Homo sapiens: one gene and its partner. The protein of the gene in region 1 purifies or fractionates together with the protein of each later gene. This does not show direct contact. Each region holds a gene or a part of one and is shown in the gene's direction. Other genes may lie near its edges.

Region 1 (15,313 bases):
TGGGATAAGGCCTAGAATCTGTGTTAATCAGCCTCCCAAGTGATGCAAAAGCAGATTGGTACTTGAATCACATTTTGAGAAATACTGCTTTAAAAATTGAGCCTATAGATCCTATGTGTCCTAGGTGGGGAGCTGTTCTAGATTAAAGTCTAATGCTAAGTTACTACTAAATGCAATGCATGAACCTTGATTGGATACTGGTTCAATAAAAACATCTAAAAGATGTTCTTGGGACATGGGTTAAATTTTAATACGGACTGGAAATTAGATTATATCATGTAATTACTGTTAATTTTCTTATGCATCATAATGGTATTGTGATGAATAGGAGAATGTTCCTGTTCCCAGGAGATGAAGGTGAACGTAGAGTCCCGGGCGCGGTGGCTCACACCTGTAATCCCAGCACTTTGGGAGGCCGAGGTGGGAGGATCACAAGGTCAGGAGATCGAGACCATCCTGGCTAACACGGTGAAACCCCGTCTCCACTAAAAATACAAAAAAATTAGCCGGGTGAGGTGGCAGGCGCCTGTAGTCCCAGCTACTCGGGAGGCTGAGGCAGGAGAATGACGTGAACCCAGGAGGCGGAGCTTGCAGTGAGCAGAGATTGTGCCACTGCACTGCACTCTGGCCTGGGCGACAGAGCAAGACTCTGTCTCAAAAAAAAAAAAGAAAGTGTTTTAGAGCCAAAGGATCCTGATATCTGCAACTTTTAAATATTTCAGCTGTGTGTATGTGTGTGTGTTGATGTGTGGATGTGTGTGTGTGTGTGTGTGTGTGTGTGTGTGTCTTTCTGTCTCTCTAGAGATAAGGGGAAAATAAAAAATGTTAATAATTGCAAAATCCACGTGAGGGATATATGTGAAGGGTATATGTGTGTTCATTGCATCATTCTTTCAACTTTTTTGACTGTTTGAAAATATTTTTAATACAAAGTTCAGGGCAAATAAACTTTAAAATAAATAAATTATATCAACTGTTATCAGAATTTTCTGCATGATTTTGTAATAGAAATAGTAGGATAGCACTTTGTTGGATCAATGTCCTTTGGAATTTAAGGGACCTCATCTCTTTAAAAAAGTGCAGATATATAGACCACATATATATATAAATGATACACACTTGGCTTTTAATTTCCTGGTGTGCAAAGTGAAAGGGGAGACATGGTCTATTAGGTTGCAAACCCTTGGGCCTTAAATCCTTTCTGGATTAGAAAATGGGTGGGAAATGACCACATAAATAATGTAGATAGTTAGTTCTTAGTTCTTATTAATCAAGAAGACAAAATATACCAGATCCTCAGAGAAAGCAAAACATTACATGTCATTTAGCTTTAAAAGAAATATCTTGGCCCAGGTATGGTGGCTCATGCCTATAATTCCAGCACTTTGGGAGGCCAAGGTGGGCAGATCACCAGGGGTCAGGAGTTCGAGACCAGTCTGGCCAACATGGTGAAACCCCGTTTCTACTAAAAATACAAAAATTAGCCGGGCATGATGGCGACGCCTGTAGTCCCAGCTACTCGGAAGGCTGAGGCAGAGCTGCATGAACCAGGGTGGCAGAGGTTGCAGTGAGCCAAGATCATACCACTGCACTCCAGTGAGACTCTGTCTCAAAAAAAAAGAAAAGAAAAGAAAAGAAAAATCTCTTGTGTGGGTCTTCATGTGAGGGCACTAAGTGATATAGTGGACAGGGCTTTCAAAAGTGTCTCTTCAGGAAATGCAGCCTCAGCGTTCACAAGGCTGTTTCTTGTACTCTTCTGTTAAGAGAGCTGTGTGTATAACACTAAAGATATTCCAGAGGTTCAGAATAATACAGTCTGGGTACATATTTGGGGCTGATTTGTTCCAAGGACGGATCCTGGGCTCTGGGGCACATGGCATTTAGGGTTCTGTAAAGGGGCCACAGGCAGTAGAAGGGAGGAGGGTGGACTGGAATACAGTGCAGGGAGAGCCTGGCCTCCAAAGGACTTCGTTATTATCTGTTTTATAGGCTGGGGTTTGCTTTGGAATCAAGCATTTTTATTGCTAAAGAAGTTTGAATTCTACTGATTTAGACGGTTGCATACCCTTCAAACAACCCTTCACAAATGTCACTTTCCTCAGCTCCTCTGGATAAAAATGAGATGGCAGATGTTTTACAGTTAGGGTCTGTGGTGAGGGCCTGGAGTGTAGGTATTCTGAGTTGATTGAGGGCTCATCTCTCTTTGTTGGTGATCAAACTAGTAAACTGAAGGTTATATTCTCTTTTAGAAATTAGGGAGCTGAGTTAGCACTTTTGCTGAAGTGTTTTACTAGAAGGAAAAAATGCTAGTTTTGGAATCCAAATAAAGGGGTCACAATGTTTTCAAACGATCGAGTTCAAGACTCTGAGCCTTGACTCTGAGAAGTTGCACAATTTTAACAGCTCAGCCCTCTACCTCTACTTCTGGTCCCAGGAGGAAAAGGACTTCAGATGTGAGATTGGGTTCTTTGGAACTTATTCAGTACTTTGAATTTTTAAAATCAAAGGTAAAAGTAAAGAAGGATGACTGTGAAATACTAAAGTTCAGTATTTGGCGGCTTGTTTTATTTTGGGACACACAAGTAAGAAGAAATGTTATTTTATTGTTCCGTACGTCATTAGTGGGTTTTTCATTTGCTCTATAAAATGTAAATAAACATAGTATTTGTGTGTCTGTGTTATAACATTCTACAGTTCCTGAATAATTAGTTTATATATGTTTATAAATTAGGTTAAGCAGTAGTAGAAAATCGCTGTTTTTGTGCATCAAAAAATGGTTAAATATTGGCTGTTTCTTATGCTTTAACCTAATAATATTTTAAAATATTATACAATTATATTTAAAGTAAACATGAAATTGTTGGGTCTGTAAACCTGAAAGGAGTTTATTATTTTTATTTTCTTTTTCAAAACAGAAAAAATGCCTGTCTTAAAGGCTGAAGCGTCACATTATAACTCTGACTTAAATAACTTGCTGTTCTGCTGCCAGTGTGTGGACGTGGTATTTTACAACCCCAATTTAAAGAAAGTTGTAGAGGCCCACAAGATCGTTCTCTGCGCTGTAAGCCATGTTTTCATGCTGCTTTTCAATGTGAAGAGTCCCACTGACATTCAGGATTCCAGTATCATCCGAACTACCCAGGATCTTTTTGCTATAAACAGAGATACTGCATTTCCAGGTGCTAGCCATGAATCTTCAGGCAACCCACCATTACGAGTCATTGTTAAAGACGCCCTCTTCTGTTCTTGTTTATCAGACATCCTTCGCTTCATTTATTCAGGTATCTTGTCAAGTGGTTCTGGTTACTTACAATCTCATAAGCTTTGGAAATGAAATGTGCCTGTGACACTCAAGGGTACTGGTTAGTTTTACAGTGGTCTTTACCTACCATCTGAGATTAAGATTATACATGAAATATTATTTGCTTTATATATAAGAATTGGTCCAAGCTTTCTGTTTTCCTTACAAATGTACTTGCCTCATCTTTTCCCTATCAATTTCATTTTATTGTGGTAAAATACATAGAACATAAATTTTACCATCTTAACCATTTTTAAGAACACAGTTCAGTGGAATTAAACACATTCATAATGTTGTGTAACTATCACCACCATCCGTGTCCATAATTCTTTGCATCTTATAAAACTGAAACTCTATACCCATTAAACGATGATTCCCCATTCCGACCTCTTTCCAGCCCCTGACAGCCACCATTCTACTTTCTGTCTCTGTGATTTTAACTCTCCTAAGTGCCTCATGTAAGTGGAATCATACAGTATTTGTCATTTTGTGATTGATGTATTTTACTTAGCATAATGTCTTAAAGGTTCATCCAAGTTGTGGCATGTATCAGGATTTTCTTCCTTTTAAGGTTGATAATATTCTGTAGTACATATAGACCACATTTTGTTTACCCATTCATTCATCCATGGACGCTTGGGTTGCTTCCACTGTTTTAGCTATTGTGAGTAATGCTGCTGTGAACATAGTGTACAAATATCTCTTTTGAGACTCTGCTTTTATTTTATTTTTTGCATATATACACAGAAGTGGAATTGCTGGATCACATGGTAATTCTGTTTTTGATTTTTTACTGCCATACTGTTTTCCACACTAGCTATACCACTTTATGTGCCTACAAACTGTGCACAAGGGTTCCAATTTCTCCACATCCTTGCCAACACTTGCTGTTTATTTTTTTTAATAGTAGCCATCTTAATGGGTTTGATGTGGTATCTAATTCTGGTATTGATTTGCATTTCCCTAATGATTAGTGATATCAAGCATCTTTTCATATGTTTTTGTATTTGCCTTGGTTTTAAATCTACTTGTAAAAACCATAATCTGCCAAACAAGTATGTTAATATTTTATTTCTTTAAAAAACATCCAAAATATGAAATGTGAGAATTTATTGTCCAATTTAGTTTTAAAGACATAAAATATTCCAAGAGTAAATGAAATCAAGTGTCTACACCTTAAAACCTAGCTATTCACTCTTCGGTTTGACTCTTAGGTTTTGTAGGGCGTGAAAGAGAGAATTGCATTCAGCTTACGGACTGGAAATCAATATCCAGTGTTAGTTGAGGTCTAATTAACTTTGGCTATGACTATCATAGACGTTACTTTTTTTTTTCCTTACTGTGCCCTTTCTTTTTAAGATTTAGCTTATCAAGTATTTTTCTCTTTGCCCTTTTAAAAACTCAGTAGCAACTATATTTTAAAGATGGAAGTTCTATCTGAGTCATTTTAGCAAATGAATTGAAGGTCTTACATCTAAGTGTCCCATGTAAGAGTGGAAAAGAACAGATGTAAAATGAATTTTAATGTAAGCATCTAAATATAAGTTTTCTCAGAACTCCTGTCTTTAATTTTCTTTACCCACTTCAAATCATGTAGCGATAACCTGTTAGGCTAAGGTCACTCCTGCTCTGCAGTGTGTCTGGAGAAACATTTATAATTAATTTGTTTTTAGGGTTCAAGTAAAGCCTAATTGGGAACAGACAAAAAGTTTAAGGTTTGCAAGGCAAGTATCATTTCATACAGGTAGGGAAATTTGGGGCAGCCTTTATTTAAGTAATTGATGTTAAAAATAAGGTATTACTTTGTTCATGTGGTTTGTGGTCATGTAATTTTATAAGTTAAAACTTAAATTATGATTTTGAAAAGTACAGTTGCAGCACGCAGATTTATGTGGATAAAAAATACATATTGGAGTAGAATGTGGTGCTAGGTTAGTGAAATATTGGCTTGGAAAAAGCATAAATTAAGCACCTGTACAGCACACACCCAGCACATTGCCTTCAACGGGTTCTCTGTAAGTTTTAGTTGAATTAAAGAGTAGGCTCCAGTAGCCGGGCATCATCATATCAGTAAGCCAAACTATTTAAAGACTTCATTTAGTACTATAGATTTTGACGTTTAAACTTAGAATGTCACAGTTCAGAATTTAAGATTTTGAAAAACTAACATGTTTACATGTTAAGAGAAAAAAGATGTTTTTAATCATATGTTTAAGGAACTGTGAGGGATGTGACTTTTGTATGATAATTTTCTGTTGAAATTACATGAATTATTCAGTAGGCTTCCACAATTATTATTGACTACTTTCAAAGGCATATGAGCACTCTGACGTCTTATATCCTTTTTAACATAGTAGCAGTAAAATAGCTAGATGTATCTCCAGTGGCTGATCCTGCCTAGCTTTCTCCTAGGGGGAGTGCTTTATTTAATTGCAAAATTAATACAGGCAGATGGAAAAAAAGAGAAAGAAAAGAAAAAAGTTATCCTTCTACCCTAGACCCTTTCCCCGGAGTCATTTACCTGTTGTAATTTTTTTATGCACTCATTCTGATACTGTTTGAAAGAGATTAATATTCTGGGGACATTTGATTAATAAAAGTGTAATCCTAGGTATCTGCTGCTTTCCAGGGATCACAGGCCGTTTCCCATGGCTGGAGCGTAGAGTGAAAGGTGATGGCTGGTGGGTGATGAGGTGGGCAAGGCCTGTGGAAGCTGTTCCTGCTGCTCTTAGACTTGTGCTAGAGTTTTAAGCATGATCAGACTGGGCTTTAGAAAGCTCATCTCTGGTTGTGGTTGCAGGGTGGAACAGTGCGGCCAAGACAGGCATTCAATCAGGAGGTCCCATTACTCTGGCGATCAGCCTCAGGAAGGCCAACATTCAGACAGTGGGTGGCCCTGCCATTGGCCCTTCATCGTCTAGACCAGTGCTTTTCAAACCTTAAAGTGTGTGCAGATCATCTGAGGATCTTGTTCCTGTGGAGATTCTGATTCAGTTACCTGGAGTGGGGCATGAGATTCTGCATTTCCAGTAGTCTCCGAGGTGGTGCTGGATCTCTGGACTGCCAGAAGCAGCTGGAATACCTGCTTTTGGAAGAACTGGGAACCAGCCAAAACCAGCAAACTAGGGCCTAGAATTCAGTGCAGAGGCCCAGGAAGGCTACCAAGTTAACAGCTTAGGATTCAAAGTAAAAATGGGGTGAGCTGTAAGGCTGACTGATGCAGTGCTATTCAGAACTGGGGCTCTCAGTGCCCTGTGTGTCCCTGACGCGAGGAAAAATGGATGCCTAGTGGTTGGGTGGAAATTAAGTAAGCCTGGAATAGGGATCGGAGGGCAGGCAGGCATGATGGTGTGGAGAGCCTGCTGAGCTACAGGTCTTCAACCAGTTCAGAGTCCTGGCTTCTTAACCTGACACTGACCCGTCCCATTTCGGCTGTGATCTCTCCTTGTACGTCACGGCCAAAGCCGGAGGTGCTGTCTGGTCTGAGCAGGGGCACGGGCCATTGACCCGGGGCTGCAGAGATCCAGATGCTGGTTAAGGAAAAGGGAAAATAACTGGTTCTGCAGGTATCTATTTATTATTCTTTAATTATTTACAGATTACAACCTCTGGCTCAAGGAAAAGTTTCATTTACATTATGTTAAAAAGAGATATCAAAGCTGTATTTGCACAGAAAAGACAATTTTGAAAAATGCTGAAAATTAAGAGAAAAAAATTTACCCAGATTCCACTATCAACAGAAAATGTTTAAACATTTATTGCTTTGTTTGATCCTCTAGTCATTTGTTTGTGTATGAATAAGTGACACTGTTTTTGAAAAAATGTATTTTGTAATCAAATCAAACAAAAATTTTAAACCTACGTTTTTCTCAGAGACTTCAGTAAATGGGCCAGGCTTGTTTTGTTTTGTTTTTGTTTTAACATTTTTAAACCTGTGAATAGAATACAAGTGTTAAGGCACAGTTATGCAGTGGTTTTCCCACAGAAGTGCTGTGGTCTGCCCTTGGGTTATGCTAGAGAACCATTGAAGACAGGAGTTGTTTGTTTGTGTTCCCATCAGATGGGTTGGTAAAGCAGAGGTTGAACTCCATCATGTGCTCAGGAATATTTGCCTTGAGCAAACACGGGCTAGAGAGTTATAATAAGCCTATCTCCTGTCCTTGTTTTTTTTTTTTTTAAAGAACCAGATTACAAAGAATATCTTAATTCTTTTTAAATAACATGCTTTTTTTAACCTTTAGGAATTTGAAATTTGGTGTGTGTTATGTCACCATGAACATTTGGTTCGTTATTTAGGAGCGACCTGTTTAACAACAGTCCGGTTAACATTTTACACCTATCTATTCCTATTCAAATTTTTGATTCAGTAGACACAGTCAAGGTATATCTGTTTTGTATACGTTAGTTTTCTATTGAATAACAACAAACACTGCATAATGTATAAGTACTTAACTACTAATCCTAAGGAACGAGGAGTAATGTGATAAGTGAAGCCAGCCCTTTCCTGGTCTTCAGGGAGTAATTCTTACATGGCATACAATTGTAACATTCTTATAATACTTGATACAGTGTTATGGTTGCACATTCTTGAGTCATATGATCTCAGATGGTTAGGAAGTGAAGTATTTGTAAGAACCTCAAGAATTTAGCTTTGAGCTCTTCCTGCCACAGATGGCCCTTAGAGTTTCACATCACTTATTGAAATGCCATCTGAGTAGACAAATATGTGGAAGCAAGCTTTCATCTTCAGTTTACATTCTCCAGTTCTTAGAATCATTCCGTGGCATGTCCTTTTCTGTATTGCATAAAAACACAGCCTAGTATACATGAGTATACCATGCGCTCTAAAAGTCTAAGTGGATTCAGTGCTTTAAGAAGTTAACTAAAGAAAATCCCAGTCAGTGATGCAAGATGTCATCCTGCCCTTGTCTGCAGTTGATCAATCAGTAAAGTTATGCAAGATGAGTAAGTTCTGGAGACCTGCTGTATGACATTGTGCCTATTGTTAATGATATCGCATTATATACTTAAAGTTTTCTAAGAGGGTAAATCTGATGTTAAATGTTTTTACCACTGGAAAAATAAAAGGAAAGTCCCAGCCTTAGGATTACTGGTTTATTAGGACCTAAAAGTCTCAAAGATGACTTGATTAATGTTTCTAATTATGAAAACAGCCCAATCAGCAGTGTGCTCTTGAGAATTAGTCTTACTTTCATTTTCAGTGAGTGATTCTTCCTGTGTGTGTTCTCAGACAGTTCAGTGGCCTGTGGGGATTTACCTGCTACTGATTCCATCTATTTAGATTATTTGATGCTTGCTTGCTTTTAGATAATCTTCTGAATGGAGATATTTTATAGGTGTTTTTTAGTTAATATGCTTTTACTTAAATAACAATGTAACTTTTACATATATAAGTATGTAAAAGAACACAGAGACAGTACTTATGTTCTTCTTTAGATTGGATGAGTGCAGACATAAAAAATACTTACATGTTCCCTTTCCTGCATACCACTAACACTGGGTTTGGATAATGGCTGAAATTTCTTTCCTTTTTCCTCTTTTTTTTTTTTTTTTTTTTTGAGACAGGGTCTCACTCTGTCACTCAGGCTGGAGTGCAGTGGCATGATCATGGCTCACTGAAATCTCCGCCTCCTGGGTTCAAGCGATTCTCCTGCCTCAGCCTCCCAGGTAGCTGGGATTACAGGCAGACGCCACCATGCCCAGCTAATTTTTGTATTTTTAGTAGAGATAGGGTTTCCCCATGTTGGCCAGGCTGGTCTCGAACTCAGTGGTTGAAATTTCTAAAGGGAAAGCAGTGGCCGTCAGCAGCATACCATGCACATTAGGGTCACCAGGGAGAATTTTAAAACACTGATGCCAGGGGCTTCAGGCCCAGAAATTCTAATTCACTTGATCTGGAGATGAGACCTCCTCTCATGGTATTTTATAAAAGATCTCAGGTATTTATAATACACAGGTATGGTTGATAATCACTGGCATAGAGTAATTTTATTGATCTGGGATCCATTGGCTTCTAAGGGGTTCTTACACTCTCACATTGTTATACTGACTTTAATGTTTGTGTGCACATGAAATTTTCTGGTCATACAATCCCAAGAATTTATGAGATGGGAAAAGAGGATGTGGCCACACAGTTAAAAAGCATTCATGCAGAAAGAGAAAAACAGAAATCATAGAGCTCTTCTACACTACACAGCTTTGAGAATTTGAGGAGGAAGGGGAGCAATCAGTGAAAGCATAAAAAGAGCTAGCAAAGGCAGAAAGAAGCAGTGGTGTGCTGGAGCTGGCACCAGCTTGTGAGAGCCCAGTTGTGTTTATCATCCCCATTTCCTTGTTCTGTGATGTCATGTTGATAGCATCAAAAAATGGCAAATGCTACATATCATTTGACTCCCTCCCCCAGGAGACACTGTAAGTATTAGGAAGGCCAGGTGGGGAGAAGTTGAAAGGATATGCATTAGTGCTTAGTGCTGCAGGGCTCAGCTGTAAGAGCCTGAGAGCTTCTGGACTTGCAATCTGCCCCTTCCAATTGGATTTGGTTTTAGTTGGTACAGACTGGCTGCAATTGCCTGATCTCATTGGTTTAATAAGTGTTTATGTGCCTGCCTCATTCCCCAATATCCATGAAGGCATCTGGTGAGTGCTGAATACAGGAATGAAAACATCAGAAGAAATGAACTGAGAGCAGATAAAAAAGGGTCTTGAATTACCCAGAGAGGTGAAGTGACTCATCACACTAGTAGTTAATAGCTGAGGTAGAACTGGATCCTAGGTCTCCTAACTATACCGCCCACACTAGGCTTCTTGAATTATATTTTTATGAGATAGGACCTTCTATAAATCATAGGATGGATGCGTGTAATCTCTTGGAATGTCATGATCAGATTCGTGCTTTTGAAAACTCACCAGCTTTGAGTAATAGGATGGATTTGATGGGGAAAAGGCTGTTAGGAAGCAGGGAGGTTGGATAGGAAGTTGCTGCAGACCAAGTAAGAGAAGTCCTTGGGGAAAAGGTCAGCTTTTGCTGACCATAGAATAAGAATTTTGCAAGACATAGAGGAAAAGAGGCTGACAGAGTGGGAGAAGTGAAATGAGCCTAGGAAGAGAGTTTTGAAGTGGGCTAGGGAAAGGCAAAGGACAGTGGGGTGATTTTGCTCCGATGACATGAGCTACGTGGACGAGTAGCTCCCTTCCTCAGGCTGGTTTTGTAGAGTTGGCTCTCAAGCATCCCAGTCTGCCCCTGACAATGCTTGAGACCTTCTGAATGCATTCTGTTGCTGCTGCATGTTCCTCTACCTGATGATAGTCACTGCTGCCCATAACTGGTAAGATTTAATTCACCCTTGGGAAAGACCACATCTACCTTTTTACTCAGGGCAAGTAAATAATTTGGGTGCTGGACCACTTGTCATGGGAACTCATATTCTGACCATTGCTGTTATCACTAGCTGCCCACCTATTGCAGAGAGGTAGCAGCAGTCTGGGGAGGAAGACTTCAGATTTTGAGAAATAATTTAGGGGAAGTTAAACTGATCGTTTTGAAATGTGAGTACTGTTTAAATGTTTTAGTATAGTTATAAGGATGTATATCTGGTAAAGAAAAATTAAAGCACTAAAAAAAGGGAATGTTGTATTTAATAAGAGATTTACTTTTGTTACTTCCTCATTTAACAGAAAAATCCAGCATGTACTAATTTGTTTACAGGTGCTTTTCAGTGGGAAGAATTGGAAGAAGATATCAGGAAGAAGTTGAAAGATTCTGGGGATGTTTCAAATGTAATCGAGAAAGTTAAATGCATTTTAAAAACACCAGGAAAGGTAAGTTGATTTGTTGTAAGTTAGTTTACTTTGACCCTCTGAATTATAACTCACATACTATGATGAATATAAAATTGAGTCGTTAGAAGAGTCAAATACTGTATAAATGTAAATGTTTTCCTTAAGTATATTTTACCATTTAAATATTTAAAACATAAACATGGGTTATTTGTATCTTAGATTGTGTGTGTGTGTGTGTGTGTGTGTGTGAGACAGAGACCTGTGTTGCCCAGGTGGGAGTGCGTTGGCATGATCTTGGCTTACTGCAGCCTCCACCTCCTGGGCTCAAGTGATATCTCCCACCTCAGCCTCCCAAGGAGCTGGGACTATAGATATGCATCACCATACCTGGCTAATTTTTAAATTTTTTGTAGAGACGTGGTTTTTCCATGTTGCCCAGGCTAGTCTCAAACTCCTGGGCTCAAGCGATCTGCCCACCGTAGCCTCCCAAGGTGCTGGGATTACAGGCATGAGCCACCACACTCGGCCCTATCTTAGACTTTAATTTATGTAAGAATTAAAATACATGTGAGTCATGTCTTTAAAATGCTCGTTTGCGAATTCTGCCTTCTGAAACATTCCCCTGGAGCTCTGGGAATACACAATCTATATCATGAATAAAAGGCTGTTTAATTTGTCCAGGTACAGTTAAGGTTATTAGAGAGGGTGCCTTCTCACTCCTCACAATTTAAGTCTCAAATAGTTTTTGAGAGGAAGGCAGTTTTGAATGTCCCTTTTTCAAGTGTTCTGAGAAATCTATTCAACGAGGTGGACAGTTAAGGATGATCTCATCAATTATAGGTTCAAAATTATAAATTAGATTCAAGTTTATAAAAACAGACTTTGTATATTGCCATAGACTGGTGCACATTAAAACTCTAGTAACTTGGTATTGTGTAGTCTGTAAGGGCTTTAAAAAACATTTCAAAACTTTAAGACATTACACAATTTAGCCAGTGTATTTTTTTGTCTGATTTTGTGATAAACAAATTGGCTGCAGTAGATAAGTAAGGTAAGTTATATGCAATACTTAGCGGAGTAAAGGTATATATTAACTATAAGAAAAATGATGATTCCTTTAATTTTTTAATATAGATGACTTTTCTGTTTTCTAAAACCTGTTAACATTTTAAAGTTAATGTTTTACAAAAATGAAACTGTACTAGCTTTTAGTGAAGATTCTTGATTGTTCTTTAGTTGAGAAAATAGTCTTTTTTGTAAACAAAGTAACGTGGAATTAAGGGGTAAGATTTTTTTTTTTTTAGTAACACATTGAAGCAGGTATACAGAAGCTGTCCAGTTTTACAAGTATATGGCAGGATGGTAGCTCTTGCAGTCTAATTCAACTAAATAATCATTTGTAAAAATTTGCACATATGCCTATATTCTCGTTTTCAAAACAGTTCATCTAGTTGTCTTGATTAACTTGTTTACGGACCAGTGAAAATGTACATCACGTACATTTGTGTTCTCTCAAACTTCTGCTCTCCCATTTTTTTCAAATTCAAAACAGAATTGATGAGGGAATCTGTTTATAGATTCTCTCCCTCTCTCTCCAGTTCTCTCATACATTCATGTGTAATATACATCTATAAAATATTCATAATATGCAAATTCATAACCTTTATATGGCTGACAAGTACAGAAATCTTGCCTTTTCTTCTAACCCTAAACCTTTTCTTGAGTCTTGATTCGGAACACATTCCTTTGAATACTGAGAATAAAATGAATTCTTATTGGGGAAAGGGAAGGCTGGGTGATACGATTCCATGGTATTGCGCTGAATTCCCTCCTCTGCACGGGGAGAAAGAAGAGTTATTTCACACCTTCTTCCTGTGCTTTCCCAGGGTAAGGGGCTGTCTCATTTACTGAGTACCACACAGGGGTGTAACTCTGAATTGGGACTTGGGAAATGTAGATTACAATTGTGAATCTGCCACAAATCATCTCTGTGGCTTTGAGCAAGTCAGGGCTTCCTATAAAATGAGGGGTAAATTGGATGGTTTCTGAAGCCTCTGCGAGCTCTCCAATTCAGTGACGCTTTTTGTTTTTGTTTTTTGAGACGGAGTCTCGCTCTATCGCCCAGGCTGGAATGCAGTGGTGTGATCTCTGCTCACTGCAAGCTCCGCCTCCCGGGTTCATGCCATTCTCCTGCCTCAGCCTCCCGAGTAGTTGGGACTACAGGCGCCCGCCACCACACCCAGCTAATGTTTTTGTATTTTGAGTGGAGACGGGGTTTCACCGTGTTAGCCAGGATGGTCTCGATCTCCTGACCTTGTGATCCTCCCGCCTCGGCCTCCCAAAGTGCTGGGATTACAGGCATGAGCCACCGTGCCCAGCCCGGTGATGCTTTTTGACTGCTACTCTCGTTAAGCGTGGCGGTCACTTGACTCCCATGCCCGAATTCCTTCCATGTGTATGACGGTTATGTTGTGTATAGGATCTCAGAATGACTTTATAGGACCAGGATTTGTATGATCCTGTTTTGCCTCTCTGTTTTGCTTATGGATACCATTCTGGAATGTTTTCTTCTGCCTTAGGAGGAAGAATAATATCATTTTTCCCCCCTCACCGAAGATTTTAAACTTCCCACCATAGTAGATTAGAGTAAGAAGTAGATGTCATTTATTCTTATTACTGCTGATGTTATATGTTTATTTCTTAGGGATAAAGCTTTCAGAGTTCCCTAGCTAGGCAAGCAGAGGATTAGCATTCTGACCAGGGCTCTCAGGCTCTGAGATTCAGCAGGGGGAATGGGTGGAGACGTCAGAATTTAAAGTGAATAAAATATGATATTTCAATAAAAATCATAACTAAGTCTTTCCAAATTAGGGAACAACATAGACTTTAGGCAAGATTGTGGTCCTAATGAATCCTAGTATTTAAAATGACTTATTATTTCATCATCATTTGGGTAACACTACCTGAAAATATTCAGGCTTGTTTTGTTTATCCACTGTAAATAGACTAAAATTTAAAAAAAAAAAAAAAAAGAGAAAGAAAGCAAAGCAAAGAAAAAAGGGTGGAGGGTATGGAAAGGGAGGCCAGCCCTTGACTTCCAGGAGGGTTGGCACACAGGGGATACCTGAAGACCACAGAAAGGATAAAGCACTGAGGTCTGAGTTAGACAGAGAGGCTGCTCCCGGAGCCACTAGCTCCAGCCAGGCGCGACAGGACAGACGAGTTATCAAGGGTGAGAGTCTCCGGAACGCCAGATCAAAAACCCAGGAAACTCTTTATAGGTTCTAGTGGGCTCTGCTGTGAGTAGGAAGGACAATTAGGATTATAAGATTGGAGATGAAGATGGAGGTGAACCAGCTGGGCCCGGTGGCTCACACCTGTAATCCTAGCATTTTGGGAGGTCAAGGTAGGCGGATTGCCTGAGGTTAAGAGTTTGAGACCAGCCTGGGAAAAATGGCAAAACCCTGTCTCTACAAAAAATCAGCTGGGCGTGGTGGTGCATGCCTGTAGTCCCAGCTTCTCGGGAGGCTGAGGCACGAGAAGCACTTGAGCCTGGGAGGTGGAGGTTGCAGTGAGCCAATATCGCACCATTGCACTCTAGCCTGGGCCACAGAGCAAGACTCCATCTCAAAAAAGATGGAGGTGAACCACTTCATTACTCTACGTTATTTTTTTAACTGTTCACTCCTTTAAGAGAAAATGTTAAGCTAGTAAGTAGAAGAAGGATATGGTGTGATAAGGGAAAGTTGTATTTTTCTTTCTTTTTTTTTTTTGGAGACAGGGTTTCACTCTGTTGCCCAGGCTGGAGTGCAGTGGCATAATCTCAGTTTACTGCAGCCTCTGCCCCCTGGGTTCAAGTGATTCTACTGCCTCAGCCTCCCAAGTAGCTGGTATTACAGGCACATGCCACCATGTCCAGCTAATTTTTGTATTTTCAGTAGAAACAGGGTTTTGCTATGTTGGCCAGGCTGGTCTCAAACTCCAGACCTCAAGTGCCCACCTTGGCCTCCAAAGTGCGGGATTATAGGCATGAGCCACTGCACCTGGCCAAAAAATGTATTTTTCTTAATTACAAATCAAGGACTGTCTTAATGAACAAATTAGGTTGTACATGTAAACATATTTTAGTAGGCATTTGTATGGAGTTGGACTACTGTTGTCTGTTTCTCAACAAAGACTCATAGGGTTTCAGGACCTTGCAGCTTCTCAGCA
Region 2 (15,313 bases), on another chromosome or scaffold:
AAATTGCTGGGCTCAAGTGATGCACCAGCCTCGGCCTCCCAAAATGCTGGAATTACAGGTGTGAGCCACTGCGCCCAGTCCTGGCCTAATAGTTTTTTAATAGTTGCAAAATCGTCCATAAAATGAAAGTTCCCCAATGTATTGAATGGTAAATTGAATAAATTACCATAACTGGCATTGATGGATATTCAGGTTACTACTTTTCAAAAACCTATTGTATTACAAATAATGTTGCAGTTGTATCCTGGTACATGTACCTTTTTTTTTTTTTTTTTTTTTTTTGGAGGTTGGGGGGCAGAGTCTCACTCTGTGCCCAGACTGGAATGCAGTACCACAATCACTGCTCACCTCAGCCTCTACCTCCCAGGCTCAGGTGATCCTCCTGCCTCAGCCTCCTGAGTAGCTGGGACTACAGGTGCACACCACCATGCCAGGCTAATTTTTTTGTATTTTTTCGTAGAAACGGGGTTTCGCCATTTTGCTCAGGCTGGTCTCGAACCCTGGGCTCAAATCGTCCGCCTGCCCTAGCCTCCCAAAGTGCTGGGATTACAGGTGTGAGCCACTGAGCCCAGCCTCTTTCTCCAAGTTTAACTTTATTTTGTATCCAACCTATTTTCTTCTCATCTATATTGTTCTTCATGTTCATGTACTAGTTATTTTTGTTTGTTTGTTTGGGTGAAGTATTGTAATTACAGAAATGAGACTTTTTTTTTTTAAATGAAAGGCCTCACATATTTATTACTGAACCCAGCCAACCAATGCGTTCATAACAGATTCGGAGAGGAAAACACGTCGAACTCTCCAGATAGGGGTGACATTTTCAGCTTGATATGGTAACGTGATCGTGACCTTCAGACAGCATAAATATGTGTGCCATCTCATGTACAATTCCTTATAGACCCAGCTTGGTTCTTCTCCAATGTCTCCTTTTGGAGTTGTACCTGATTTTATTTCCAGTTTTCATCCGAATCCACTGGGGAATGGGACGATTTTGCTTTTGTTTCTTGGGCAGGAATCACTTAATCCTGAAAGTCTTGTGAGAAGACATGGTGAGGGTGGAGTCAAGAACACACCACGATGGCAGAGAAAGGAAAAGAGGCATGAGATCATTTTATACCCATCATGCAACCACAAGCTTTTCTCAACTGATAATACTAGGACATTAGTTATAGACCCATTTTTTTTTTTTTTGAGACGGAGTCTCACTCTGTCGCCCAGGTTGGAGTGCAGTGGCGTAATCTTGGCTCACTGCAGCCTCTGCCTCCTGGGTTCAAGCAATTGTCCTGTCTCAGCGTTCCTGAGTAGCTGGGATTACAGGTGTGCGCTACCACGCCTGGCTGATTTTTATATTTTTAGTAGTAGAGACAGGGTTTCACCATGTTGACCAGCCTGGTCTCAAATTCCTGACCTCAGGTGATCTGCCTGCTTCAGCCTCCCAAAGTGCTGGGATTACAGGTGTGAGCCACTGCGCCAAGCTCCAACATTCTTTTTTTGTAATTTTTTTTTTTTTTGAGATCAGCCTGTCAGGTTGGAGTGCAGTGGTGCAATCTCAGCTCACTGCAACCTTGGCCTCCCAAGTTCAAGTGATTCTCCTGCCTCAACCTCCCAAGTAGGTGGGATTACAGGCATGCATCACCACGCCCAGCTAATTTTTGTATTCTTAGTAGAGGCAGAGTTTTGCCACGTTGGCCAGGCTGGTCTTGAACTCCTGACCTCAGATATTCTGCCTGCCTTGGTCTCCCAGAGTGCTGGGATTACAGGCGTGAGCCACCGTGCCTGGCTTCCTTTTAATGCATGCATAATGTTCTATTGTATGGTATGTTGGGGAGAAAAAAAGAGTTTTCCTCTACCCTTCCGAGGTTTTGGTTGTGATAGACCCCTGTAACAAAAGACAGATTAACAAGAAGAAAACAAACAGGACCAGGCATGGTGGCTCATGCCTGTAATCCCAACACTTTGGGAGCCCAGGAGTTCCAGACCAGCCTGGGCAATATGGCAAAAAACCATCTCTACAAAAAATGTAAAAATTAGCTGGGCATGGTAGTGGATGCCTGTGGTCCCAGGTACTCTACTCTGGTGGCTGAGGTGGGTGGATCGCTTGAGCCCAGGAGCGAGAGGTTGCAGTGAGCCGTGATAGTGCCATTGCACTTCAGCCTGGGTGACAGAGCGAAGCCATCTCAAAATAAATAAAAGAAAGAAAGAAAAAAAGAAAAACAGAAATTTAAAAACATGTACGTCACGTATTCAAAAGAGAGACCAGGGAAATGAGCAAATCTCCAAGAGGTAGCTTTGAATTCAGGATTATACAGCATCTTCAAAAAAGAACAGTATATGTTTAGAGAAGTGTTAAGAGAACCGGGCACAGTGACTCACGCCTGTAATTCCAGCACTTTGGGAGGCCGAGGTGGGCGGATCACCTGAGGTCGGGAGTTCGAGACCAGCCTAACCAACACGGAGAAACCCCATCTCTACTAAAAATACAAAATTAGCTGGGTGTGGTGGCGCTTCCCTATAATCCCAGCTACTCAGGAGGCTGAGGCAGGAGAATTGCTTGAACCCGAGAGGCGGACGTTGCCGTGAGACTGCGCCATTGCACTCCAGCCTGGGCAACAAGAGCGAAACTTCGTCTCAAAAAAAAAAAAAAAAAGAAAGAAAGAAAAAAAAAGAGAAGTGTTAAGAGAAGGAAAATGATTTTGAGTCTCTAGGGGTGGCAAATTATGGGAAGGCAAATACGCGATAGAAAAAGGCTCATTAATGAAGTTTGTCATGTAGATTCCTGGCTGATAAAGGTTTGTCAAAAGACAAAATTACAACTAATTTAGTTTAAAGAGCATAATTGGCTTTTAGTTGCGATTGTAGAATTGTGCAACACCTCATTTTATAAAATCGAATGAGTGTTCCTATGAGTTGAGTGGAGGAGGTTGGCTTTCAGAAAGGGCTGAAGAAAGCAGAAACAGAAAAGTGCATTGGTTGTTTCGAGGTTACTTTCCTTGAAAAGTTTAAAGCAGAGGGTATTTCCTTATCATGTCACTTCAAACTGGTCTGTCGGGAATTTGGCTATTATTTTTCTTTCTCCTGATTTCTTAGAAAGTCAGATCGACAACTTAGTTTTGACCTTGTGATGTGGAACATGAGTGACTTGAGTGACTCCATTTTGGTTTAGTCTGTTGGGCCTAGTCTAGTGCAGGAGCTCAGTCCAAACCAATGGCTTCCTATGAATTTTATTTAACAGGCGTAAAATTGTCTTTAGTGATTAACCTTTGTCCTTCCAGGCAGTGTGGGAAGAGGGATACCTTTGCCTTTTAAAATTTATGTCCTGCTTTACTTCAGACATTACACTAAATAGGAGTGTTGAGTATAAAAATGAATTCACAATTAAAGTTGTTAAATTATTTGTATATAACTTTAAAAGGAGTTTTTTTGAAGCTTTGTAATTACATTGAAAGTATATTTGTTTCCTTGAAAACAATTTTTTGAAAAGTGAATAATAATATAATACAGCTTTCAAATTACTTTATGCTGTTACTTTATTTCTATTGTATTCACATGTGAAAGTATGTGATCAGTTGTTGCTGTATCAGAGATATTAGAGATTCTTTATTAGTTGGGCATTCTTTATGACCTTTTCTATAAAAGAGTAAGGACATTAAAATGTAAGATGCATGATAAAAATATAAGTAGCGAGGCTCATTGTAGTTAGCCTAAATTAAGTAATGTTTAAGGTAGGTGTTCATGGCCAGGCGCGGTGGCTCACACCTGTAATCCCAGCACTTTGTGAGGCCGAGGCGGGTGGATCATGAGGTCAGGAGATCGAGACCATCCTGGCTGACACACTGAAACCTCGTCTCTACTAAAAATACACAAAATTAGCCAGGCACGGTGGCGGGTGCCTGTAGTCCCAGCTACAGGCTGAGGCAGAAGAATTGCTTGAACCCGGGACGTAGAGTTTGCAGTGAGCTGAGATCGCACCACTGCACTCCAGACTGGGCAACAGAGCGAGACTCCGTCTCAAAAAAAAAAAAAAAAAGTAAGTGTTCAGAGTAATACTTTTCTACATTATACTGAGAGAAATTATAAATTATAAAGTATATCAAATTATATTATTTTACTAATTTTACTTTTATGTAATAAAATGCAATATATTTAAAAATTGTTAAAAAAATAAAATTTATGTCCTGCTTTTAGGCAAATGGGGAAGGCGGAGAACTTTCCACCCACGTATCTACATCGTATCTACATCTTCTCAATTGTCTTCGGCTTGAAATAATCCTTAGGCTAAAGAGGCGTATTTTGGGGTGGCACATTCTGGTGTCCTTACAGGTACACTACTTTTATTCATGTCTGTTACTACTATTACACCCCCTTCACCTTGGGCCACCCCATCCTCAGTCTCCCTCATTTTTCTTTACAGTTAGCACCATTTACCCATTCACGGAGAACCTTACAGTTCTCGCAACAGGGTGATCACTCAGTAAGTACTGTTGTCCCTTTGGTCTGTTTCTGGCAGCGATTAGCTGTGCGCATTCTTTGAGAGGAGCGACGGAGGGAACAGAAGAGGGTACTAGTGAAGAACTAAGGTGCTTCACCCAAATAGATAGGGAAGGAGGAGGAGAGCTGAGGCGAGCCTCAGCTTCTGCCTTTTTTTTTTTTTTTTTTTTTTTGAGACGGAGTCTGGCTCTGTCTCCCAGGCTGGAGTGCAGTGGCGCAATCTCGGCTCACTGCAAGCTCCGCCTCCCGGGTTCACGCCATTCTCCTGCCTCAGCCTCCCGAGTAGCTGGGACTACAGGCGCCCGCCACTATGCCGAGCTAAATTTTTGTATTTTTAGTAGAGACGGGGTTTCACCGTGTTAGCCAGGATGGTCTCGATCTCCTGACCTCATGATCCACCCACCTCGGCCTCCCAAAGTGCTGGGATTACAGGCTTGAGCCACCGCGCCCGGCCAGCTTCTGCCTTCGATGTCTTCTGAAGGAGGGTGGGCTTCGAGGCGGCAGGATGTGCTTAGGGCACTGAGTGGCCCAGAGTGGGGAGCTCCTGCAGGGTTGAGAGGACCGGCGGGGCGAGGTCGGGGCGGGGCTCGCAGGACCTGGGCGGGGCTCGCAGGGGCTGGGCGGCCTGGGGGCGGGGCTGGGCGGAGCGCGCAGCCGCGCAGCGGTGGGAGGACTGCGGGGCTCTTGAGGCCAGCTGCAGAGCTTGTGGAGGCCATGGGGCGCGTCGTCGCGGAGCTCGTCTCCTCGCTGCTGGGGTTGTGGCTGTTGCTGTGCAGCTGCGGATGCCCCGAGGGCGCCGAGCTGCGTGCTCCGCCAGATAAAATCGGTAGGCGAGAAGGGGGCGGCGCGGGAAGGTGCTGGAGCGCGCCCCGCGCCGGGCGGCCGCTGCGCAGTGCGCCCAGATCCCACAGCCGCGACGCAGTCCAGCGGTGCAGGCCGAGCCAGCTGCGCAGGTCGCGCTTTCCCCCATTCACACTTCAGGGCGGCTTTCAGCTCTGGTCGGAATAGGACTGTGCATTCCCAGGCGTGGAGAGGTGCCCACTTGAGGAATGGGCGTGGACGGGGACAGGGGCGGGCGGGCAGGCAGGCGCCTAGCGTACCTGTAGCCCCTGTCTCTTAGGTGTGGGGCTCCGGGGAGGCCTAGGTTTCTCTATCTTCCCGTTGAACACTGACCGTGAAGACTCCAGTGTTCTGGCTTGACCTGGGGCGCCCGGCCAGATTAACAGGCTCACGCAGGCACAGCACAGGGAGGAGTGCAAACAAGTTGACCCTGCCTGCTTCCCTTGGGAGGCTGAACCGCCTTCCCCCAGCTCCGCTTTGCTGAGGTCGGCCTGCTCTCAGAGGCCCTTGGCTTGCACAGTTTCTCCGCCTAGGACTAACACAGCTGCAGAAAGAATCTGTTCTCTTTCCACTGTCAAGAGCTCCAGTGTCAGGAGCCTTGGCTCTTTGCTTCCTGTCTCCCTCCCGCCCCCCTTTAAAGTTGTGTTCTTCGGTATCATTAACCTATCTACATTGAATCTAGACACAACAAAGCTAGGCATAAATGGCCGTCACTTTATTAAAAATGCGTGCTGGAAAGGTCCACCTCTAATGTGCCCGTGAGTTGGGCATCTGGAAGGGTGTGCAGGCCCCTTGGTTCCTCCATAAAGACCTGTGAGAATCTTTGGGCATCTGGAAAAAAAATCGAGTTAATGTCAATATGTTAATTAATCTACTGCTTTTGTCTGGGAACAGTGTCTGTCCAGATTCAGGGAGTTAGACCTTCGCTGCAGGTGTCACTCTTCCCCCACCAAATTGTTGGTAATAGCTTTGAGTAACAACCTCTGCTATTGATGGTCTTTCAAAAACAAAACAACTCACAGAGCTGGTAAAAGGGGAAAATATAATCTTCTGTTTTTTTCCCTCATAGCGATTATTGGAGCCGGAATTGGTGGCACTTCAGCAGCCTATTACCTGCGGCAGAAATTTGGGAAAGATGTGAAGATAGACCTGTTTGAAAGAGAAGAGGTCGGGGGCCGCCTGGCTACCATGATGGTGCAGGGGCAAGAATACGAGGCAGGAGGTTCTGTCATCCATCCTTTAAATCTGCACATGAAACGTTTTGTCAAAGACCTGGGTATGTAATTTTGGTCTTGGAGCTCACCAGATTACTGTGTGACATCCCCGGATATTTTTATCAGATGGAGAACTGAAATTTCTGCCTTGTTAATTGCCTTACAGAGACGTTGGTAAAACTGTTTTCCTCACTTTCTTGTTAGTTGGTACTGCCTGAGTTAGGAGCAGTTCTGCTGTAATGGGACACTAGTTGTCTGTATCTTCAGTTATCTGGAATTACAGCCATGGGGTGGGGGTGGGAATGGCTGCCATTGTCTTTTTTTTTCTTTTGAGGAGTTTCGCTCTTGTCGCTCAGGCTGGAGTGCAATGGTGCGATCTTGGCTCACTGCAACCTCTGCCTCCCGGGTTCAAGCGATTCTCCTGCCTTAGCCTCCTGAGTAGCTGGGATTACAGGTGCCTGCCACCACGCCCAGCTAATTTTTGTATTTTCAGTAGTGACGGGGTTTCACCATGTTGGCCAGCTGGTCTTGAACTCCTGACCTCAGGTGATCCGCCTGCCTTGGCCTTCCAAAGTGCTGGGATTACAGGGGTGAGCCACCGTGCCCGGCCTCTGTTGTCTGTTCTTAAAATTCTGGGTTTGTGTTAAAGAATCAGAGAAGGTTTGGAGATAGTCATCTCATTGTGATCATTTTGCAGCTGAGTAAATGAGACCCAGAGACTTGAATTGTCTGGCTCAAAGTCACTCACATATGGCCATGGCCAGGGTCAGTGGCTCATGCCTGTAATCCCAGCACTTTGGGAGGCCGAGGCAGAGGATCACTTGAGCCCAGGAGTTAGAAACCAGTCTGGGCAACATAGTGAGATCCTGTCTTTACTAAAAATAAAAAAGTTAGCCTGGTGTGATGGCACAAACCTGTAGTCCCAGCTTCTTGGGAGGCAGAGGCAGGAGGATCCCTTGAGCCTGGGAGATAGAAGCTGCAGTGAGCCTTGCATGCCACTGCACTCCAGCCTGGGCAACAAAGTGAGACCCTATCAAAACAAACCACCACCAACAAAACAAACTCCGTCACACAGCTGTGGATGCAGACACGTGCCTAGAACTTGGGATGTGCAACTGCTGCCCTGACAGCAGAGGAGCTGGATAGGTCATGGGGAAAGTCTGACAGGCCTCTGGAGGCCCTTTCGGCAGGGAGTATTTTGTAACTTTGGCCTCCTTCCAGTTATCTGAAATATCCAGTTTTGCAAAATAGGATTCTCACAGGAATGGAAGTGCCTCAGCTGCCTTCCACATCCTCTGTAGATGCTGCCTCTGCTTCCGTTTCCTCCACGAGGGCGAAGGTATACCCAGAACAAATTATGCCACGAAGATGCATGTCTGACATCTTTGTTTTTAAATTGAATTCAGTTGGTACTCTGGCTTTTTTCCTTTGACTATCCAGTTTTTTTAGACTTTTAGTCTAAAAATAGCCAGGTAAAAATATATCTACTTTTGATATATTAATATTTACATGATCATCTGACCCATCGCCTAGCAAATCTGCTTTTGGACAGTGTAGTGAAAGTATAGTGTTTCACACTGTTCCAAAGATAGAGCTCCTTTATGTGTCTCCTGAGAACTGAGGGAAGCCCCAAATTCACTCAGATTACGTTCTTTCATTTGATCAGCATAGACACCACTGACTTAGCTGTGCTTTATGTTTTTGCAGGTCTCTCTGCTGTTCAGGCCTCTGGTGGCCTACTGGGGATATATAATGGAGAGACTCTGGTATTTGAGGAGAGCAACTGGTTCATAATTAACGTGATTAAATTAGTTTGGCGCTATGGATTTCAATCCCTCCGTATGCACATGTGGGTAGAGGACGTGTTAGACAAGTTCATGAGGTAATTTTTTTTCCTTCCATTTAACCTAAGATCTTTTAATTTAGGTTAAATTAAACTTGATGAACTTTAGGAATTATGATTTCTTGTAAGCATTTTCTACCTCACAGCAAGGCCTGTTTATAACATTGTTAGGCAAAATGTTTTGTAGAAACTATGCAGACTATTTGCTTGGATATTGAAAGGTTGGTTTATTTTTGCTTCTGAAGTGTATTTTGCAAATGCTTCTTTAGTGTTGCCAGATACTGTTAGATGCCTTGAATTCTTATGACAACTTACTCTGGTAGGTACTGTTTTTAGCTTCTTTAAACAGATGCAGAAGGTGGCGGTGTAGAGAGGTTTTAAAAGGCAAGTTCACCCACATAGTAAGTGGTATAGCTGGAGTTGCCACCCAGGCAGTCTGGCCTTTGAGTCTTCACTCTTAATCTCTATGCTGTGCTGGTGTTGTGTATATGAATTGAGATAATGTGTACAAGAGCTTGTAGAAAGGATCAGAAAACTTAAATGGCCTTTAATAGTGACATGTTTTCAGTGAACCAGCAGCCTGAAGTAGAGTAAAAGTTCCATATTCCAAGAATTTACATTCTAGCACTGTTTTGGGTAGTGAGAATTCAGGTGCCTCTTTTTCGTCCTTATGCTTTTCTATATTTAAACAGTTTTTTTAATGCGTGTGAATATGTATCACTTTGGTAATCAGGAAGACTAACATAAAATAGCCAGTCTAATTTTGAAAGGTACAATCTGTATTTTTAAAGCTGTTGGCATGTTCTAGTTTTTTAGTTTTTTTGTTTTTTTGTTTTTGAGATGGAGTTTCGCTTGTTGCCTAGGCTGGAGTGCAATGGTTCGATATTGGCTCACTGCAACCTCTGCCTCTTGGGTTCAAGCGATACTCCTGCCTCAGGCTCCCGAGTAGCTGGGATTACAGATGCCTGCCACCACGCCCAGCTAATTTTTGTATTTTTAGTAGAGATGGGGTTTCACCCTCTTGGCCAGGCTGGTCTCGAACTCCTGACCTCAGGTGATCCACCTGCCTCGGCCTCCCAAAGTGCTGGGATTACAGGTGTGAGCTACCGAGCTTGGCCGGCATGTGCTAATTTTTTTTTTTTTTTTTTTTGAGATGGAGTTTTGCTCTGTCGCCCGGGCTGGAGTGCAGTGGCACCATCTCGGCTCACTGCAACCTCTGCCTCCCTGGTTCAAGCGATTCTCCTGCCTCAGACTCCCGAATAGCTGGGATTACAGGTGCCTGCCACTGTGCCTGGCTAATTTTTTGTATTTTTAGTAGAGACGGGGTTTCACTGTGTTAGCCAGGATGGTCTTGATCTCCTGACCTCGTGATCCGCCTGCCTCAGCCTCCCAAAGTGTTGGGATTGCAGGCATGAGCCACTGTGCCCGGCTAGCACATGCTAATTTTTATGCTGCTTTACAGTTTTAGGTACTGGAGGCCAGGATCGCATCATTACACTCCAGCCTGGGTGACAGAACAAGATTCCATCTTGAGGGGAAAAACAAAACAAAACAAAACATGTCATATGACCAGGTATTGAACAGGACAAATATGAGTTAAGCAGGGCTGGGCACAGTGGCTTATGCCTCTAATCCCAGAATTTTGGGAGGCTGAGGCTGGTGGATCACCTGAGGTCAGGAGTTTGAGACCAGCCTGACCAACATGGTAAAACCCTGTCTCTACAAAAAATATAAAAATTTAGCCGGCGTGGTGGTGCATGCCTGTAATCCCAGCTACTTGTGAGCCTGAGGCAGGAGAATCACTTGAACCTGGGAGGCAGAGGTTGCAGTGAGCCACGATCGTGCCATTACACTCTAGCCTGGGGGACAGAGCCAGACTGTCTAAAAAAAAAAAAAAGAAAGCTAAGCAGGATATGCTCTGGTTTCTATAACTCATGGTAGTTTGGGGTTTCTTTCTTTCTCAACATCATTCTTAGGTCAGTTCCTTAAATGCCTTTCCCGTGGGTACCTTAAGTCCATCTACAGTGCATAATGTTTTTAAGTAGCCATTCATTCATTCACCCAATATTGAATACCTGTTAGGTGCTAGGCATTGTTCTATGTTGAGAGTATAGGACCTACAACATGTCCTTGTCCTCAAAGAATATATATTCTAGTGGAGAGACAGGCAATACACAACCAAGGAAATATATAGAATTTGCGTAGAGACGGCCAGTCACTTTATAGAAGGTGGGTGGCATGGTGCTGCATACTCAGCAGGCAGATCAAGTTCTGATGGCATCAGCCCTGCTTGTGTGTATTGTTTTTCTTTTCTTTTCTTTTTTTTTTTTGAGATAGAGTCTCGTTTTGTCGCCCAGGCTGGAGTGCAGTGGCGGGATCTCGGCTTACTGCAACATCTGCCTCCCAGGTTCAAGTGATTCTCCTGCCTCAGCCTCCTGAGTAGCTGGGACTACAGGCACATGCCACCATGCCTGGTTAATTTTTTGTATTTTTAGTAGAGATGTGGTTTCACCGTGTTAGCCAGGCTGGTCTCAAACTCCTGACCTTGTGATCTGCCTGTCTCGGCTTCCCAAAGTGTTGGGATTATAGGCGTGAGCCACTGTGCCCGGCCCTCTTTTTTTTTTTTTTTTTTTTGATACAGGTCTCACTCTGTCACCCAGGCTGGAGTGCAGTGGTGTGATCATGGCTCACTGCAGCCTGGACCTCCTGGGCTCAGGGGATCTGCCTACCTTAGCCTCTGTGTAGCTGGGACTACAGGCACGTGCCATCAGATCTGGCTAATTTTTTGTATTTTTTTTGTAGAGATGAGGTTTGGCCATGTTGCCCAGGCTGGTCTTGAATTCCTGGGCTCGAGTGTTCCACTCACCTGGGCCTCCCAAAGTGTTGGGATTACGGTTGTGAGCTCCTGTTCCCAGCCTTGTTTTTTTTTTTATCTGTGGCTTGCTTGAGATGTAGAGAATTGCCCTTTGAGAAATTAAGAAATTACTTTTTTTTTTTTGAGATGAGTTTCACTCTGTCACCCAGGCTGGAGTGCAGTGGTGCAATCTCGGCTCACTGCAACCTCTGCCTCCTGAGTCCAAGCGATTCTCCTGCCTCAGCCTCCTGAGTAGCTGGGATTACAGGCATGTGCCACCATACCCAGATAATTTTTTTATTTTTAGTAGAGATGGGGTTTTACCATGTTGGCTAGGCTGGTCTCAAACTCCTGGCCTTAATTGATCTGCCCGCCTTGGCCTCCTAAAGTGCTGCGATTACAGGCATGAGCCACCGCACCTGGCCTAAGAAATCACTTTTGAAGTGAATTCAAGGTATTACAGAACTGGGAAAAAGAACCAGTGAGGGGATACATAGGTTATACTGTTTTTGACTTTAAAAAATAATTTACGGGCCGGGCGCGGTGGCACACGCCTGTAATCCCAGCACTTTGGGAGGCCAAGGCAGATAGATCTTGAGGTCAGGAGTTCGAGACCAGCCTGGCCAACATGGTGAAACTCCGCCTTGCTAAAAATACAAAAATTAGCTGGGTGTGGAGGCGCAGCTAATGCCAGCTACTTGGGAGGCTGAGGCAGTAGAATCGCTTGAACCCAGGAAGCGGAGGTTGTGGTGAGCCAAGATCAAAGTATACACAAGGTGGAGAAAGACCTATGTAACAGTAGTAAACCATGACACTCGAAAGAGGGCTCAAGCTTGTGGTAGGCAATACTCGAAAACAGTGCATTCATTCATTCTCTGCTGTTGGAGGTACTTGAGTGGAAATCCTGCAGCCCCTGACATCAGCACTAGCTAGCTTAATTTCCACTTCTGCACATACATTTATGTAGTTGTTCTGGTTGGATGCCATTCTTAACTAATTTTTTTTTTTTTTTTTTTTTTGAGACCAAGTCTTGCTCCGTCACCCAGGCTGGAGTACGGTGGTGCAATCACAGCTCACTGCAGCTTTGACCTCCTGGTCTCAAGTCATCTTCCAGCCTCAGCTGGGACTATAGGCATGTGCCATCATGCTTGGCTAATTTTTTAAATTTTTGTAGAGACAGGGTGTTGCCATGTTGCCCAAGCTGATCTTGAACTCCTGGGCTCAAGTGATCCTCCCACCTTGGCCTCCCAAAGTGTTGGGATTACAGGCGTGAGCCACCGCGCTCAGCCGGATGCCATTCTTTACTCCCAAGTCCAACCTCTTATCTCACTTTTTCAGCAAAGCATTTCCTTAATGCTTCAATCAACATTCATCTTTCTTTTCAAACATCCCTTATTATACGGTGCACACTGTGTGCTTGTGTTCTATGCTACGCACAGTAACTAGAATGTAGTAGATGTTTACTCAGATGTTTGTGGAATTTAAATCTCTGGTCTGCTGATGGCTTCCTGTTGAGATATCTTGGCTTGTAGACTAGGTTAAAGCTTATTCTTCTCTCTCAAGTTAGTGCATTTCTGGGGACTTGTAAGATCCTTAACACTTCTTGATCTGAGACTGATAGACTCACAGGGAAAGGCTTTATAAACACCCTTTCTTCCTTCCAGTTACTCCTACCAAATATTTTGAGTCAATTTTTGTTCTTTCATTTCCCAAACCCACTCTATCTTGAATCCCATCAGCCTTTAAAATACATCCAGTATTCCACTACTTCTCTCCAGGATTACTGCTACCACTTTGTTCCAAGTCACCACCACTGTCTCTTGTCTGGATTGCTAGAGTAGCCTCCTATTATAGGCTGAATAATCCTCTCCCCTGCTGTCTGCCACAAGATGTCCATGTCTTAATTCCTGGAACCTGTGAATGTGTTACCTTTTGAGGTAAAAGAGACGTTGCAGATATGGTTAAGGATGGGTAGATTATTCTGGATTATCTAGGTGGGCCCAATATAATCACAAGGGTCCTTAGAGAGGCAGGAGGATCAGGGTAGGTAGTAGGAGATGTGATGATGGAAGGAAGAGATTGGAGTGATGCTAGGAAGGGGTGTGCGTCCACGAGCCAAGGAATGCAGGTGGCCTGTAGAGGCTGGAAAAGACAGTCTTCCCTCAGAGCTTCTAGAAGGAACCAGCCTTGTGCACACCTTGATTTTAGCCCGGAGAGACTGACTTTGGTCTTCTAATTTACAGAACCGTAAGATTATAACTTTTTTTTTTTTTGTTAGTATTTATTAATCATTCTTGGGTGTTCTTCGGAGAGGGGGATTTGGCAGGGTCATAGGACAATAGTGGAGGGAAGGTCAGCGGATAAACATGTGAACAAAGGTCTCTGGTTTTCCTAGGCAGAGGGCCCTGCCGCCTTCCGCAGTGTTTGTGTCCCTGGGTACTTGAGATTAGGGAGTGGTGATGACTCTTAACGAGTATGCTGCCTTCAAGCATCTGTTTAACAAAGCACATCTTGCACCGCCCTTAATCCATTTAACCCTTAGTGGACACAGCACATGTTTCAGAGAGCATGGGGTTGGGGGTAAGGTCATAGATAAACAGCATTCCAAGGCAGAAGAATTTCTCTTACTACAGAACAAAATGGAGTCTCCTATGTCCACCTCTTTCTACACAGACACAGTAACAATCCGATCTCTCCTTCCTTTCCCCACATTTCCCCCACTTCTATTCGACAAAACTGCCATCGTCATCATGGCCCGTTCTCAATGAGCTATTGGGTACACCTCCCAGACGGGGTGGCGGCTGGGCAGAGGGGCTCCTCACTTCCCAGACAGGGCGGCTGCTGGGCGGAGGGGCTCCTCACTTCTCAGAGAGGGCGGCTGGTCAGAGAGGCTCCTCACCTCCCAGACGGGATGGCGGCGGGGCAGAGACACTCCTCAGTTCCCAGACGGCGTCGCGGCCGGGCAGAGGCGCTCTTCACATCTCAGACGGGGCGGCGGGGCAGAGGCGCTCCCCACATCCCAGACGATGGGCAGCCGGGCAGAGACGCTCCTCACTTCCTAGACGGGATGACGGCCGGGAAGAGGCGCTCCTCACTTCCCAGACTGGGCGGCCGGGCAGAGGAGTTCCTCACATCCCAGACGATGGGCGGCCAGGCAAAGACACTCCTCACTTCCTAGACGGGGTGGCGGCTGGGCAGAGGCTGCAATCTCAGCACTTTTGGGAGGTCAAGGCAGGCGGCTGGGAGGTGGAGGTTGTAGCGAGCCGAGATCACGCCACTGCACTCCAGCCTGGGCAACATTGAGCACTGAGTGAGCGACACTCCGTCTGCAATCCTGGCACCTCGGGAGGCCGAGGCTGGCAGATCACTCATGGTCAGGAACTGGAGACCAGCCCGGCCAACACGGTGAAACCCCGTCTCCACCAAAAAATACGAAAACCAGTCAGGCGTGGCGGCGCGCGCCTGCAATCCCAGGCACTTGGCAGGCTGAAGCAGGAGAATCAGGCAGGGAGGTTGCAGTGAGTCGAGATGGCAGCAGTACAGTCCAGCCTTGGCTCGGCATCAGAGGGAGACCGTGGAGAGGGAGAGGGGGAGGGGGAGGGGGAGAGGGAGAGCTGTTTTTTGTTTTGAGACAGAGTCTTGCTCTGTCACCCAGGCTGGAGTGCAGTGGCACAATCTTGGCTCACTGCAGCCTCCGCCTCCTGGGTTCAAGCAGTTCTCTGCCTCAGCCTCCCGAGTAGTTGGGATCACAGGCGCCCACCACCATGCCCGGCTAATTTTTGTATTTTTAGTAGAGATGGGGTTTCACCATCTTGGCCAGGCAGGTCTTGCACTCCTGACCTCGTGATCCACCCGCCTCAGCCTCCCAAAGTGCTGGGATTACAGGTGTGAGCCACTGCACCCGGCCGTAAATTTGTGTTGTTTTAAGCCACTAAGTTTGTGGTAATTTGTTATAGCAGCAGTGGAAAACCAAGACACCTCCTAAATCATCTGCCATTACTGTTATATTGCTACCATTTGTTCTCAGGTTAGCAGCCAAAGTAGTTCTTTAAAATCTAAGGCTCATCACATCAC

The links.
Region 2: the proteins of RHOBTB3 (region 1) and PCYOX1 purify together in Homo sapiens (co-immunoprecipitation; 3 studies listed by BioGRID and IntAct, with this or other methods). This does not show direct contact.

The regions. Positions count from the first base shown.
Region 1 is NC_000005.10:95,752,481-95,767,793, forward strand, and holds part of RHOBTB3 (rho-related BTB domain-containing protein 3), read left to right. Parts: intron 1-2,915; coding exon 2,916-3,281; intron 3,282-11,027; coding exon 11,028-11,140; intron 11,141-15,313. UniProt on the Homo sapiens protein: Rab9-regulated ATPase required for endosome to Golgi transport. Involved in transport vesicle docking at the Golgi complex, possibly by participating in release M6PRBP1/TIP47 from vesicles to permit their efficient docking and fusion at the Golgi.
Region 2 is NC_000002.12:70,252,963-70,268,275, forward strand, and holds the start of PCYOX1 (prenylcysteine oxidase 1 precursor), read left to right. Parts: upstream 1-5,174; 5' UTR 5,175-5,202; coding exon 5,203-5,314; intron 5,315-6,397; coding exon 6,398-6,604; intron 6,605-8,249; coding exon 8,250-8,424; intron 8,425-15,313. UniProt on the Homo sapiens protein: Prenylcysteine oxidase that cleaves the thioether bond of prenyl-L-cysteines, such as farnesylcysteine and geranylgeranylcysteine. Only active against free prenylcysteines and not prenylcysteine residues within prenylated proteins or peptides.